2 separate regions of the Homo sapiens genome follow, and region 2 is linked to region 1. The links come from fine-mapping of genetic effects on gene expression. Tissue or cell type: whole blood. Region 1 holds a variant in brackets; the other region holds the start of a gene. All regions are shown on one strand. Distances are from middle to middle.

What was found. PIP is the estimated chance that this variant, and not a neighbour inherited with it, causes the effect.
Region 2: ARHGEF6 starts here. The variant in region 1 is fine-mapped to the expression of ARHGEF6 in whole blood (TOPMed, PIP above 0.99). The same link has a PIP of 0.9 or more in blood mononuclear cells.

The regions. Positions count from the first base shown.
Region 1 is chrX:136,745,617-136,753,801 of GRCh38, forward strand. ARHGEF6 (Rac/Cdc42 guanine nucleotide exchange factor 6) reads right to left here. Exons shown (of 22, transcript NM_004840.3): 3 at 1,892-1,976. Among named protein-coding and RNA genes, the nearest start is that of ARHGEF6, 31 kb to the right of the region's middle. The variant G/A (reference allele first, on the strand shown) is at 4,442.
Region 2 is chrX:136,777,206-136,785,390 of GRCh38, forward strand. ARHGEF6 (Rac/Cdc42 guanine nucleotide exchange factor 6) reads right to left here and starts at 3,727. Exons shown (of 22, transcript NM_004840.3): 1 at 3,513-3,727; 2 at 2,209-2,292. The coding sequence starts at 3,677. RefSeq lists an enhancer at 2,163-2,382.

The DNA of each region.
Region 1 (8,185 bases):
CCTCCTGAACCAGTTGCAACAGTATGCCCTGTTATCCAAGGCAGAACTATATTGGGTACCAAACAGCTGTTTGTGGCTCTTATTACTTTGAAATATTTCAAATTTCTCTCTTTGTTTTTTGGCCCATAACTCAGTGGCTCATTTCTTACTCACACGTAACAATATGTGTGGCATATATGATGTAAAATCTCCCTGATGTGTGTGGGGCAGGGTGGAGAATGAGAGTGAAAGAGAAGATGTGTTTGGGAAAGATGTAATCTTGATACTAGAATAATTTTTTTAACAATCAGATTCAAGAGTCTTCTCTTCCTTGAAACCTTGTGAAATTCGACCAGGCCAGAGCTGAGCTGGATGTTTTCAGTTTGTTGAGAGTATACAAAAGAGAGGAGCTGGCTTCTTGACAAATTTCAATAAGGGTTCTTTTCCTCTCCATTTATTTTTAAAAGATATAAACTGCAAAAGTCTAAAGCCCAAACATTCCCTAGGCGACAAGCTCAGTATCCAAGTAATTTCCTTGATGCTGTGGGTTTTAACTTTCACCTCCTTGTATTTTATAAATATCTGTGGCAAGGGAAGAGACTGTAAAACTTGCTAGGAGAGTTTGGCAAAGGAACGTATAATTTGTGTGGCATAATGTTAGAATTACACGATCCTCCCTGACTAGAACTGGATAGTTGTCATGTGTGTTAAATATAGTTACTTGAATTAGCTGTACTTTCAGCTATACGCCTTGCAATAGCTCAAAAGCATTTTTTTTTCCAAATAGCAAAAGAACAACTTTGGAGAAGTATTTTTACTTGTATTGCTATTATATACAGCTCTTTTGACAAAAACTATAATTACTCGATAGCTTCCTAGATGCTCTAACCTATTTGGCACTTGATTATATTGTCTGCTCTTGTCCTCTAATTGTTTCACGTGGGTAAGTTGAGTCTCCTTAAATAGACAGTAATTTTCTCAAAGGCAGGGACCATAGCTTTGACATTTTTTGTAGCACCTGGCGATGCTGGGCACACAGCCTCTTGACTCTACAACAGTTTGAGCAGCAAGCCTCGTGCTTGGGCATAAGGGCTCTGTAGTCATTCAGATGTGGGTCTGAATCCCAACTCAGCGACTAACTTTCTAGTTGGGCAACTGTTGGCCTGACTTTCCTTATCTGTAATATGGACCTAATAATAATAATACCTACCCCCAGTGTTGTTTCAAGGATTGGATGAGATCACCTGTGGCTCTTATGACAGCCTAGATCCAGGGCAAGAGCTCAAAGCATTTTAAGTATGATTATTACTATTCAGCTGTTGGTAAAATATACCAGGGAAGGAGTGAAGCTACATTCTAAGTGTATCATCATTTTCTTCACATTTACTAGCATTTATATTTAATACCTCTAGTGTGGTAGGTGTTAAACATTTAAATAAAAGATATTATTTTCACTCCCTATGACCCCAAGATTTCATTTTTGGTGCAAGGCTACTGAGGGGTTCCTTTACATGGACAAAGGCATACATAAAACAATGAGAAAAATATGTCTCTAGTGGGGAAAGGGAAGTGACGGCTGTATTTTGTAAACTCTATGAAAAAGGGAACTGGTCTTTCCTTTTTCTTCTCTGTTTTGTTATACTCAGTTGGTGATTCAGAGCTTTGAATGGAATAGTTTCTTAGTTCTTATCATTATATTAAGGGCATTAGAATAACATCTATGATAGGTATATTTTAAATCCTAAGCCATGAAAAATTCAAGCATTTGACATTTGTTGGGGTGTATTTGGGGGAGCAAGGGGAAAATTTGCATCACGAGAACAATCCTGGCCAGAGTTGGCTCCTAGGGTAATCACAAACACATGGATTCAAAAATGTCACCCAGAACATATAAATCACAAGCCCGGCTTACCTTCTGTTGCTTTGTTGACAGCTAAAAGAGTACTCAGTACCTTGGAGAAATTGACCCCTGAATAAAGGTCATCAGGATCAAATATCTATGAGAAAGGAAAATTGAAACCGTAAGACACTACAAGTATTCAACTCAACAAACAAAACTATCAAAAGGCCACTTCCTCCAGCTCTCCGGAAAAAAAAAAAAAAAAAAAAAGTGTAGAAGCCAAGACACAAACCTCCATATACCTTTGGGAGAAATGAGAGCAGCAGTTGAGCCGCCTAATGACATGTGGCAGGCCATCAGTGAGTCAGAGCAAAGCAGTAATGGGAAATGAGAGCCAAGCTGAGAAGGCAGCGCCCACCAGGAAATAAACAGTGCATACTCAGACCCACTCTTCTGGCCTGAATGTATCAATAGTTTCAGCCCAGTTACAGGAAGCTCATATGCATGGGTTACAATCAATGCCCATCACCTACATAATGTCCTCGACAGTCCATAAATAAGGAGGTGGAGCCTTTTTGACATGGTTGCATCTGTACAGTTTATTAGCTGTGCCTAGTTGAGTCACTGTCAAAAGTGCCTTTTTCTCTGCTCTCCTTCCTCCCAACTGCCACCCGCTGCATCCCAACTGCCTAGGATCCCAATTCCATGTTGCCCAAACTTTCTGCCCAGGTCTGCCTTTTGCTCCCAGCTTCAGTTCTGTTTCTGCTGTTTGACCTTGCCCCTCTCAGCTCATCATGAATTCAAGTATTTGCCTGCCTGGGCCTATGGGCTCTTCCTGGCTTTAGATGACTTTCCCAAATATGACCTCTGGCCTGTCTAATACTACTCAACTCTTGGCAAAAAACACATTAAGGAAATACATTTCACTTTACCAGTCAACTGTCAATCTGATATGCTATTGTCCCCAGTGAAGATACCAATCAGATGTTGTTTTCAATACAATTTACCTGTTACCTTTGAAATGTAGTCAGTGTGTTAAAATATATTGAGTCTCAAATATGTATATTTGAAATTAGAAGTGTTCTCATGCACAGGTACAATCTATTAATTTGCCAGCCAACAATGTAAGTATGCATATCTGAAGGTAACCAGATGCCCACCTTCTGGATGGAAATGCCCCTTCTAAAAACATTTTGTTCCAGGATGTCTAGAAGTCTCTTAAAGAAAACAGATTGCATCATTTTTTCCCCAAATGTGGTGATGGAAATAAAATGTACCTTTTCATATGGGACATGATTGGTAATGGGCATAGGATTTTAAAGGGTCTGTCTTCCCATTAGGTAGAGCCATTTGTTCCATTTTTAAGCTGCATATTTTCTGGGAACCATATCAAGACAAATTTCTATCTTTTTTGTACATGTTCTTGAAAACCTATAATCTGTTTTTAGAGTGAAAATATATAATATCAATTTTTCACGTTTTGGGGGGTCAATAAAGATACATGCAAATGCAAACCTACACAAGTCTGCCTATTCTAGGATTCACTGCTTTATTCATTTAATCAATGAATATTTTGCATTCAAAGTTAAAATGACCAAAAAGCCCAGATGCATCTAAAAATGAGACATTAATATATTTCTGGTAAAAGAGTAATGCTAATATTACTAAAGAGTTAAACAACAACACATTCCAAATATATTTCTGAATGCTACAATATAAAATTCAAACTTTTCCAGAAATACATTGACAAGAGTTTTGTTTTAGTTTGTCAAAGCCTGGGTGAACAAGAGGCAATAGACTAGAGAGAGTGTCTAGTATCTCCGGGGATTTCAGACTTATTGAGTCTCCCTTAGAACTGATCAACTGGGAAAATGTTAATGACATGTATGCCAAAATAGTAGCAAAGCAAAAAAAATCACTTGTTTTTAGCCCATCAGTCCTAATGGGAGTGTGCATGTGTGTGTGCATGTGGATACATGTTTTGGGTGGGTGTGGTAGAGATGAGTAGATCTAAAATAATAAGCAGAAGTTAAATATTAGCAGAATAAGGCATGAGAGCAAAAGTTGTGATAAAAAACCTCTCCCTCTGGTTTTAGTTGTTCCTTATCCAGGGTTATTAAATGCCTATACATGGCAACACTGGTATTATTCACTTGTACAAGTACTTGACTGATTTTGAAAATAAATAAACTAATCAGAAAATGAAATGTGCATCAAGAAGAGTCATTGCATCTGCTTGAGGGAAGTTTCCTGAACTGTACTCGGTTCTCTTTTGAGAAAACCCCAATATACTCAAGTTTATCCATGGACACTGTTCTTGCTGCAAGCCTATTCTGAGGCACTAGAAACTACAGAGGAAGGAGTTGGAAGAAGCCTCTGGGAACTGCTAGAGAAAGCAACGCCTAAGCATTATTATTTCAGAGTAGCTGGAGAATCAGATACAACCACAAACACCCTTCACCACACTATACCTTCTAAGTCCTAAATTGAATGATATTGAAAATTCCACCCTAGATCTTTCTTCCATGCACTTCAGAGAGCTCCCCTATGAAAATGGAAATATTATCTGGAGGGATCACAACATTTTCAGCCACTATCAGTTATTTATGTCTTAGTGGAAAT[G/A]AGCAGTGTGAGACCAAGTTTAGAGATGTTGATGTGGAGAAAGACTAAGGGCTCTGGTCCCCAAATAGGAGAAAGCAAAGGAGAATTCCCCAATGTAGAGAGGGTGTGAGAAGAACAAGGAAAGGTAGATTAAAGTACAGACCACTTTTTCTAGGACTAATCCCACTCATTTATACATCCAAAATAGAGAACCAATTCCCTTTTCTGTCTGCAAAGCACTGGAACTTGTTAAAAAGGTAATGTAAATTTGCACATTTATGCTGTATGTAATTTTCCAAAGTCATTTTCAATGAAATTTTTCAAAGTCAAAGTCAAATCATGGCAAAGTCATGATGATACTCATCTTCTAGTACCCTGTGCAAGCCTCACTAGTCTGTTCAGTGTCTCTGGTTTGTGACTGAGTCCCAGATTAGCTGAACTTTCTTTATACCTATTTTGGTGCACAAAAAGCCAGTTAGTTCCAGTTAGATCCGTGAAGGTCAGATGAACAGCAGGATTCCCTCCCTCCATTCATCTTACCACTACTGTGACTCAGACAAGAAAAAAGTATTACTTCTTAGACTACGGCTAGATGGTGTCAAGGTATCATTCCTGCAATCAGATGATGCAATGTTCAAATCTAACAACAATAAAAACATTTACTCTAACCAATAGGACAGACAGGGATTAAACTTTATTAAAGATATTTTAAGTATTTACATATAGCCAACCTAAGTTGCATTCCTACATCAGTAGATGAAATCAAACTTTTTTTTTTTTTTTTGAGGCAGAGTCTCACTGTATCCCCCAGGCTGGAGTGCAGTGGCATGATCTCAGCTCACTGCAACCTCCGCCTCCCAGTTTCAAGCAATTCTCCTGCCTCAGCCTCTCGAGTAGCTGGGATTACAGGGACCTGCCACCATGCCCGGCTAATTTTTGTTTGTTTGTTTGTTTGTTTTTGTTTTTGTTTTTGTATTTTTAGTAGAAATGGGGTTTCATCATGTTGGCCAGGCTGGTCTCAAACTCCTGACCTCAAGTGAGCCACCTACCTCAGCCTGCTAAAGTGCTGGGATTACAGGCGTGAGCCACCGCGCCCAGCCCAGACATTTAATTTTTAAATGTTTCCCTACAGCTTTTTATTCTAGATATCCCCAATGACAGCAAAACCTATTTGCAAACCACTAAACACCAGGTGTTAATTGTGAATTATTGGGGATCTGCCAATGTAAACTGCAAGAAGTTAATATTTCTATAGCATTACAAATAGAACCTTTTGGAGTAGTTCTCAGTTTCAACATGTATGCTATTTTATGACACTTTCCCTAAACTGCAAAAAGCCAGGAAGCATATGAGAATAAACTTTCCCAACTCCCTGTTCCATTCCCTCACTTATCTTATAGCTACTGTTTACTGATTTACTGAGCTCCTGCTATGTTCCTGGCACCACGCTTGGACATCACATACATATTGCTATGATCTGAATGTTTGTGCCCTTCCCAAATTCATATGTTGAAACCTAATCACCAGTATAATGGTATTTGGAGGTGGTGGCATTTAGAGGTGATTAGATCATGAGGGCATAGCTCTCATGACTGGGATTGTTGACTTTATCCAAGAGGCCCCAGAGAGCTACCTTGTCCCTTCCACCATGTAAGGACATAGAGAGAAGGTACTATCTATGAATAGGGAAGTAGGCCCTCACCAGGATACTAAATATGTCTTGATCTTGGATTTCTGGCCTCCAGAACTATGAGAAATACACTTCCATTGTTTATAAGCTACCTGGTTTATGGCTTTTTGTTCTGGTGGTCTGAACAGACTAAGATACAAATATATTTTTTTATTTGCATTTGATTCTCCCAGCAAGCCCATGATGTCAGTACAATTATTTTCCCCATTCCACGGATGAGTAAACTAAGACTCAGAGTAGTTAAGTCACAGGGCAGGAAAATGATGGAGCCAATAAAGATACACAAGAAAATGCTCTGAGGGGCATTGTAGCCCTGCATGTACACCTTATGTTTCCATGAGACATAGAGAAAAAATGAAAAAGCAATCCATGAGTCTGTATGCGAAAAGAAATCCTTTGCTTCTGTCAATACAAGTAGCATCTGTATCATCTGCATCGAGTTTGTTATAGCCTCTAAAATGATTAATTCAACTAATTGTAGCAAAGAGAAAATTTTCCATATTACAAGACTGTCTCCACAGGGGCCTTGCCTAATTCCTGTGCTGTCCTTCCCATTTCAAGGGTCAGCCTTCACCTAGGAGGCACTTGGCCACATTTGCCAAAAGAGGGGAAAAGCTACACTAAGCTCCTCCTATTTGTTGAACCAGGTCTGCCTCGTGAGCCACGATCCATATTTGTGAGGTCCTGGTCTGGTAGGGGTCCAGCTCGTGATTACAGAACCAAGCTAAAACATCTGTGCCACGTGCAATGACACCTAGCCTCCTGATTTTCTTGACATCATGCTCTAACCACCTGAGTTAACCAGTCACAGCAGTCTAGCCACATCTTAGTTAAGAAAAGAAGGCATACCCTACCCTGGTTCAGAACTGGTCATCTTTAATGTCATGTGGTTTCAGTAACACCCAATCAACTGCTATTTAAAGGTAATTTAAGGTTGGGGGTGATTATAATAGGTTCCATTACTCAAGAGTTAAAAGTCTAATCAACTGAAAAGCAAGTGATACATTGGGACCACAAGGACATATAGCTTATATTTCAAGCCTGTTTTTTAAAAAAGATTCCAAATATTTAGGAACATTCCAGCTCTTCCTTGTTCTTATTGCTCTTATTGAACAAAATCTTAAATTAACTTAGCTCATCTTGAATCACATTCTTTAATTCTCACAGCTGAGCACACTGCCTCTGTTAACCCCTGAACTTTGGTGGAAATGTCATTACATAGTGCAACAGAGCAAGCAAATCTGAGCTGCTTAGTCATATTTCACTGGGTGGTACCGCTCCTGGCCCTGTGAACGTGATCTGGGATGTGTGCACATAGCTCCTACTAAAAGCAGTCACAAAGTCAGCAACAAATAATGCTCTTAGCTCAGAAATTGGATTCATTACCCACTGGTATTCCACTTACTAGAATATAGTGGATGGCATTTCTACTCTGCCTGGTTTTAAATAATAGCTGTTCCTATTTGATATGGACCAAACTTAAGGGAGCAAATCTTGCTCTCAACTTTTATTTCCTCCCTTTCTCTCCAAGATCTAATTTGTGCCTGTAGCTGAAACAACATACAGTGTATTGGAAAGAGCACTGATGTGAGAGTCAGAAGACTTTGACTCCAATCTCAGCTTTGTCACTATTGAGCAGTTGTGAGGACCTTAGGAAAGCAACACTACCTTTATGAGGCTCCATTTCCCATCTGGAAAGTGTCTTTGAGCAAAGGAGCTCAGTGAGAGGTCTTGTGGTCCATCATCTAAATAGGAGCTTTTAAAGGCAGCATCTTGGCTGGGTCCCCAAGGCCCAGAATCAGGTCTTCAGTTCTCAAGGCTCTTGAGAATGGACTCACACTAGCCAAGCTCATAAAAGGCCAATGCATAAACCAAAAGGCCAATTTCTTAATTTTTACTAAAAATAAATGAAGCACTAAGAAGATTAAATACTCCCATTTTCTGGCCAGGGCACTCTCTCCCAATAGAGAAATCTCTCTGGTGAGCTAAATTATAATGAGAAATGTGTTGAGTACTACAGAATCAGAGCAAAGAGAGTCTAGGGTATTGCAGCCTAACATGCTTACAACCTGTTT
Region 2 (8,185 bases), 32 kb after region 1:
CAGAGTGAGACTCAGTCTCAAAAAACAAAACAAAACAAAAACAAAAAACAAATAATCCCATCAAAAAGTGGGCTAAGGACATGAATAGACAATTCTCAAAGAACATATACAAATGGCCAAGAAACATATGAAAAAATGCTCAACATCACTAAGCACTGGAAATGCAAATCAAACCACAATGAGATATCACCTCACTCCTGCAGAAATGGCCACAATTAAAAAAAAAACAAAAAATATTAGATGTTGGCATGAATGTGGTGAAAAGGAAACACTTCTACACTGCTGGTGGGAATGTAAACTAGTACAACCACTATGGAAAACCTTAAGTATGGAGATTCCTTAAAGAAGTAAAAGTAGAACTACCATTTGATCCAGTAATCCTACTACTGAGTATCTACCCAGAGGAAAAGAAGTCACTATATGAAAAGGACACTTGCACACACATATTTATAGTAGCACAATTTGCAATTGCAAAGTTATGGACCCAGCCTAAATGCCCATCAGCCAAAGAGTGGATAAAGAAAATGTAATATACATATATATAATATGTATACATACACACACACACACACACACACACACCATGGAATACTACTCAGCCATAAGAAGGAACAAAATAATGGCATTCACGACAACCTGGGTGGAGGTGGAGACCATTATTCTAAGGGAAGTAACTCAGGAATGGAAAACCAAACATCATATGTTCTCACTTATAAGGGGGAGCTAAGCTATGAGGATGCAAAGGCATAGGAATGATGTAATGGGCTCTGGGGACTCAGGGGGAAGGGTGGGAGTAGGGTGAGGGATAAAAGACTCTACATTGGGTACAGTGTACACTGCTCAAGTGATGGATGCACCAAAATCTCAGAAATCACCACTGAATAACTTATCCATGTAACCAAACACCACCTACCTGTTCCTCCCAAACTATTGAAATAATATTTTTTAAAAAGGTCACACGAGTCCTATGAATTCGGTGCCACTATTATTCCCATTTTGTAGGTAGGAAGACTGAGGCCTAGAGTCATAGTTAAGTAACATGCCCAAGGTCACAAAGCTGCTAGTAAGAGAGAACTGAGATTTGAACCCAAAAAGTTTAGCACCACAGTCCATGCTTAAACCACAACTATTTGTCCACGGATAATATGACTAATACTAGTCTATTAATATAGAGTACTTCTTCTGTCCCAGGCCCTATGCTAAGGACTCTACATAAATTATCTCATAGATCTTACAAGGTTGGAGCTCTTGGCCCTAAATTATTATGCAGTATCTTATTTGATTCTTTTTTTTTTTTTCGAGACAAGGTCTCTTTCTGTCATTCAGGCTGGAGTGCAGTGGTGCAATCACAGCTCACTGCAACCTCCACCACCTCTTGGGTTCAAGCGATCCTCCCACCTCAGCCTCCCGAGTAGCTGGGACTACAGGCACAAGCCACCACGCCTGCCTAATTTTTGTATTTTTTGTAGAGTCACCATTTCACCATACTGTCCAGGCTGGTCTCGAACTCCTGGGCTATAGCAATCCTTCTGCCTTGGCCTAGGATTAAAGGCATGAGCCATCATGCCCGGCCTTATTTGATTCTTAAAGCAATCCCATGAGTTGGCTATTAGCATGTCCGTTTTACAGATAAAAATACTGAAGCACAGAGAAGTTAAGCAACTTGATGCTCGTGTGGAAGTATCACCTCCCTTTCAGTAACACTTCCTATACACACTGTAGGGATCCATATAATATAAAATAATGCCACAAAATTTACTATACAATTTCTACCTCAAAGCCAAGTTCTCTCAGCTTTTCAAGGCCTCTGTTCTAAAGTGTTAATGGGAAGGAGTAACAATGGCCTTTCCTCTTTTCTCAACTTGGGAGGATTACAGTGACCCTCTCCAACAGTCAGTGGCCCACTTTTGGTTCCCCTTAGTAGGAGAACACACCCACACAAGCTCTGTCACTGGAAGCCTGTTTACAGGGCTTGGATGCTGTATATAAAAGGCATTATTGTGTGAGTTTTTATTTTGTTTTGTTTTGCTTGGAACTGGTTTCTGGAAAAGACAGACTAGCAATCCATTACTGGGGACCACCAGTCTGCTACCTCTGTTTAACTCAGTGGCCAATGACAGTGAAAATAAACAAGTACTCTTACTACCAATCTTGATTAGCAGAGCAAAAAAACGATGACAACAGGGAAGGCACCCGGGGTAGGCTTACTTCCACTTGGAGGGTTGCACATCCTTTCAGGAAGTCATTGATGTTGTTGATGCAGTCAGCTTCAGTTTGGGGATCCAGACAAAACTAGAGGAACACAGTGAAATGTCACTTGGAGATTGTCATCCCATGCCAAGCAAAGTATACTCATCATTTGCTGATAACTAGAGAAAGCAGGCCTCTTAAGGTGTGGGGCAACACTGCTGTCAATCCAGGAAGAGAAATAACCACTGAAGGAAGTGATGCAAAAATCTAAACGGTCGATCTTTGTTTCAAATGTCACCAAACCTTTAGTGGCAAGCCATGTCTACTTACAAGCTTTCTCTCATGCCTTCTGTTCCAGTGTGCTGATGGCAAATTAGGGAGACCAAGACAGTTTTTTGAGCTTAGTTCTTGCTTTCAAGAAAGGAAGCAATCCCTGGTACCTCTCTCTCCTCCTTCCCCCTGATAATTTAATAAAATTCTATTTCCCCTCTACATTTGACCACACTTCTTTACATTTTATCACTATTTAATCACTCTTTCTCAAGTTTAAGAAATTATAAGTAAATTTATTTGCTCAATAAAAATACAAACTGGCTCATGAAGGCAAAAGTGCTATGCTCACAGTCCATGATGACCTTAAGAAAGTAAATGTAAAATTGTACCTTTAAGCTTACTTAAAGTGCCTACTTTAGAAATTATCTATTCTCGTGATCGTGGATTTCCAGCTATTAAAAATCTTGAATTGTTTTAAAGAGAGTAAAGTTAGTTTCACTTTGAACGCACATTGCATTCGAAACATATATCTGGTTTCTATTGCTTTTACAAACTTTATGTGACATTTTGAATTATTTTTTTCCTAGTTGCTATATAGTCTCTCCTTCAATGGATTTTTCTAAAAGGAAATCTACACTGATTTTAATCAAACTGCCAATAAACACCACCAAGATCTGTTATAAATCATTCTATTTTTCCACAGACTCATAAGTACCCCAAGTTCAAAACATGTCCTCGGTACACAAGGAGATGTAACATGCATCTCCATGATAGAGCAAGCTTGTGATATGAGTGTTCTCCTTGTCCCTTGTTGCCAGTGGTGTCACAGGTTTTCCCTATACTACAATTTGGGGGCCAATTACTAAAGAATAACGTTTCATTTTCTTACATTTTCAAACTACAAAAACAGTAAGAAAGAATGTCTAACTCTTAGAAAAATATTAAAGTAGGAGATTCCCATGGCCTGGGAAATAGAAAAATCTCAAGAGTTACATGATTGCTGCTCTCTGGTGATAAGCAATCCCAAAGAGACTGCAAATTTCCCTTACCTTTTCCACAGAGCCAGGCATGAGTCTGTTGATCAGTTTGCACAGAACTACCCCATTTTTCAGCGAGGACTTTAAAAACTCCTCCGGATCACAGATGGTCTTTTTAGGGGACTCTAAAACTCCCAAAGATATAAGCCATGTCACGATTTGTTCTTCTGGATTCATTACTGAGGACGGTACACTCCAAACAGCACTCTGGGGCAGCTGCAAGGACTAAGCCACATCCGCGATTGCATCTGCTGTTGTCTTCCTTTTTATGAGTTCTCTTCGGGTGCTTGCAGAGCAAAGGTTTAAAGCAACTTTTCTTAAACAACAGCGGAACCCACTCAAAATATGGGATTTTAAAACCACAGAGATCACGGTCCAAGATGTGGAAACAGATAAGAATTAATTTAACAATCCTGGATAACGCTGGTTTTTCCTTTTCAAAACCTGCAAAACAAATTCGTTAGGATAAAAAAAAAGAAGAAACGCACATGCACACACGCATACACACACACGCACACAGAGTGCAAGAAGTTATAAGGGAAGAAAGTGAAAAGGATGCTGGGGAGGGAGGAGAGACAAGCAAGCAAGTGCTTTGGGAAACAGAGGTGAGCCAGCACTTCAGGGGACCTTGGAAATGAGACACTCATGGGCCAGTCTGGGAAAACACTGTCAATAAATAGTCTAGCCCCAGTGAAAATCTGGCTTCTGTTAGGAGGACGATGCCAACTGGCTCTTAGGTCAGACAGATCTGAGCCTCATGGGGAGATGTGCTGGCACAACAGGGCTCAAAGAAGGTAGACAGAAAATTCTTCCAAGAAATAGCCGGATGTCCTCATAGTATCTCCCAGAGATGGTGTGTCACGATCATTCCTTGCAAAACACGTTGAGTTGCATGGTGACAACGTGCCAAGCAAACGAAGATTATGCCTGCTGTCAGCCATCACTGTGTATAAGCAGAAGCTAGAAGAATGGCATTTTACTTTGCAGCCAAAAAGCTATGTTTAGGGAAATAGGCTAAGGATAACATCTGACATCCTGTTTACTTGCATTCTTTAGCAATTCTTTTTCTGGACCTGGTTCCACTACATAATCCAGCTGCAGTACCCTTAGCAAAGGCTCAGACTCAGTCACATAAGTGGGTAAAATACACTTGAAAAAATAGAATGTTTGAGAACAAAAGAGCACTTGTCCTCTGTCTACACTACAATATGGAAGATTCTTATTTTCCCAACAACAACAACAACAAAAAAACACTTTGCACTTAAAATACTGCTCTGAAAAAAAAACTGTCTATAACAAGAGATCTTCATCATTCTCAAACATTTTCAGAACCACTTGAAATAGGCATACTATTGGGAAATTTATGATAAGGCCAACTTTAATAGTATAACCCTATGTTGGCAAATGTGTGGCACTTACCATGATTACCTCTCCTCGTGCATGGGAGACATCAGATCATGTATAGCTCTTTCCTACTAAGCCTCAGAATTCTTTTCAACACAGCTTCAGGCATCTACTACCAAAGAATCAGCTTAGATAACCCTACTAAACATTTTCAAAGCTGCCCTTTCTTGCTCTGTCAGGACACTTGTCACACTTTACTATTATCACTTGTTGATCTGATGATCTGACTCCTCCACAAGAATGTAAACTTCCTAAACTCGGGGTCTTGTTTTTTTTTATTTAACACTGTGTTACCAGCAGACTGCCAGGTATACACAGTAGATGTTAAAAAATGCTGAATGAATAAATGAATGTATTCAGATGGTGTCCCTGATATAGACAGTAACTGATTATAGCAAGGATTTTTTGTTTGTTGGTTGGTTTAAATGGCTTAAAACAAACATTTTTTCTTGTTAATGATTTTTACCATTTTATTAAGCTGTAATTGACACATAAGGAACTGCATATATATGATTTAATGAATTTTGACATATACATACATCTTTGATACAATCACACAAATGCAATCCAGATAAGCCTTTCCATCACCCCCAAAATTGTCCTCGTGCCCTTTCAATTCTTTCTTTCCTCTTTGCCTCCAAATGCCAGGCAACCACCAATCTATTTTCAGTGTCTATAGATTAGTTTGCATTTTCAAGAATCTTATATAAATGGAAGTACACAGTATGGTACTATCTTTTTTCTGGCTTCTTAACTCAACATCATCATTTTCATACTCATTCATGTTATTGTGTCTGTCCATAGTTCTATAACAAGGTTTGCTTGATGTACTTGTGACTTAAGCAAAATAAGTATAATCAATCAAAAGTTTTCATTGACGTTGACCCATGGCCAAATCTATGTAATGGAAATAAAAACAGAATACATTTGTTGATAAATAAAATTCCCAAATCTGACGAACTTAAACACATTTTTATATGTCATCTGAACAGTTTTCACAACTGCTCATCAAAATTTTACTCTACAGACAAACAAAATCTGGCAGTATTATTGAGGTATCACTTACATCTTCTGATGAAGAACAAAGCCTGAGTAAGTTTTGTGAACCCAGCCTCCTCCAAAACAGTCTTGAGTTCACCAAGGTCATCTGGATAAAACTCTGCCTCATTTTGGACACTCACTATAGCAAATATTACTATGAGTAATAAAGTATATCAGAATGGCAAGGCCACTGCCTCAAGGCAAAAGAACCAGTTCTATTTGTATAAAGATTGGAAGTTACAGTTGGTGTGGTAAAATGTCAACAAAGCAAGGAATTCCAGGGCAGTGGCAAGCATATAGGTGAAATGGGTACCCATGAAACCCAGGCTGGTTAGGGACTCAAATGAAGCTAGAAAGGAGCTGATGAACTGAGGGAATAGGGGAAGAGGGGGAATTCAAAGACTGGGGGTCACAGCAACACAAAGAGCAGGCTTCACACAAGAGCATGAGAAAAAAAAGCAAAGATCTCTCACCCTACCTCAGATCCTCAGTACCACACCCTCTGGGCCACTGAACCTGCCTCTTCAAGGGCTTTCCACCTCCATCCTCTCATCCTAATGAACTCTCTAACAGGGCACATTTGGGTTGATTTTCCAAAAACACCTCTAGTGTTAATACCCCTGTTCAAAAACCCTCAAAGGCTCTCTATTGCCTAAAGCAGGAATTGACAAAAAACAATGTTCATATGATCATCTCCTGTGAGGCATAAAGGAGAAAGGAAGGTGAGAGTGGAACTTAAGCTAAAATAGGTAACATTTCATGAAAAATCAAAAGATCTTCAGGAAATAAGGCAAATGTGAACATTTGTTAAGACTGAATGCTGGGTACACTGGTACCTGTTTTACTATTTAGTTTTGTGTGTTTAAAATGTTACTAACCGATTCTCTTTCATTTCAAATCTACTAAGGCACTTACTAAAAAAGAATATTTGGGAGCTCTCTTCCCAGATACTCCAGTTCAGAAGATCTGCAGTGGGAAAAAGGAATTTGTGTTATCAAAGTATCCCACTTGATTCTGATGCAGATAGACCAAGGTCACACTTAGAGAAATGAGTTTATTGGTCTCTAACCTTCTACACCACTCTAATTTCTGCCAACACTTGGGTCATTTCAATATCCACAAGAACAACAATCCAACATCAAGACCTCTCAGTTCCTTGAACTTCTCAACCTGTAATCAATTTATTACCTCTCATTTCCCCTTTATGCCTATTCTGTGAAATGGACCTGGGACCTTGAAATATTTCTGACTTTGCCAGCTGGCATGATACAAAGTTTTATCAGTAGGCAGTGGTGGAGAGACATTGCAGGAAGAAGGGGTTTTACTTCCTGTTTTCTGTGCGCTCACTCCACAAGCTCCTGCTGAGCTCCCAGCTTTCCTATTGCCCACCTTCTGCAGCACTGGTTTTCCCAACAAACAGTAGGTAGCAACCTCCCCAGGCACTACCCTTGAGTGTTTAGGCAGCAAAGAATCTCTGATGAGACAGACACCTTCCATGTGAACCAGCACCGTAGAGGGGTATATTTCAGCAAGTTCCAGAGAATGTACATCCAACAAGTTCCACCAACTCAGCACCAGAGCAACTTCTCCAATAAGGCCTGGATCTCGACCGTGGGTGGAGAGGAGGGTTATCACAGCTCTAGAGGTATCGGCCATTACATATTATTTTTATATTGTCTGCTATTTATATCTGCTATCCCATACTTTTTAGAGTTTCCTTTATTTATTACTAACCAATTCTTCAACACTCCAATCCCCTGTTATTGTTAATTCTTTATGTTAAACTCTTCTTGTTAAAATTACTATGTAGTAGGCTGGGCACGGTGGTTCACACCTGTAATCCCAGTACTTTGGGAGGCCAAGGTGGGCAAATCACCTGAGGTCAGGAGTTTGAGACCAGTCTGGCCAACATGGTGAAACCCAGTCTCTAATAAAAATACAAAAATTAGCCAGGCATGGTGGCGGGCATCTGTAATCCCAGCTACTCTGGAGGCTGAGGCAGGAGAATCGCTTGAACCTGGGAGTCAGAGTTTGCAGTGAGCTGAGATCGTGCCATTGCACTCCAGCCTGGGCGACAAGAGCCAGACTCCATCTCAAGAAAAAAAAAAAAATACTATGTAGTGTCTATGTTCTGATTGGACACCAACTGATACACCTTGTTATCTTAAATGTATACTTCCTCTCCACTTTAGCTAACCTCTTGGAAGGTTACACCTTGTACTTTTTTATCACACAAATTT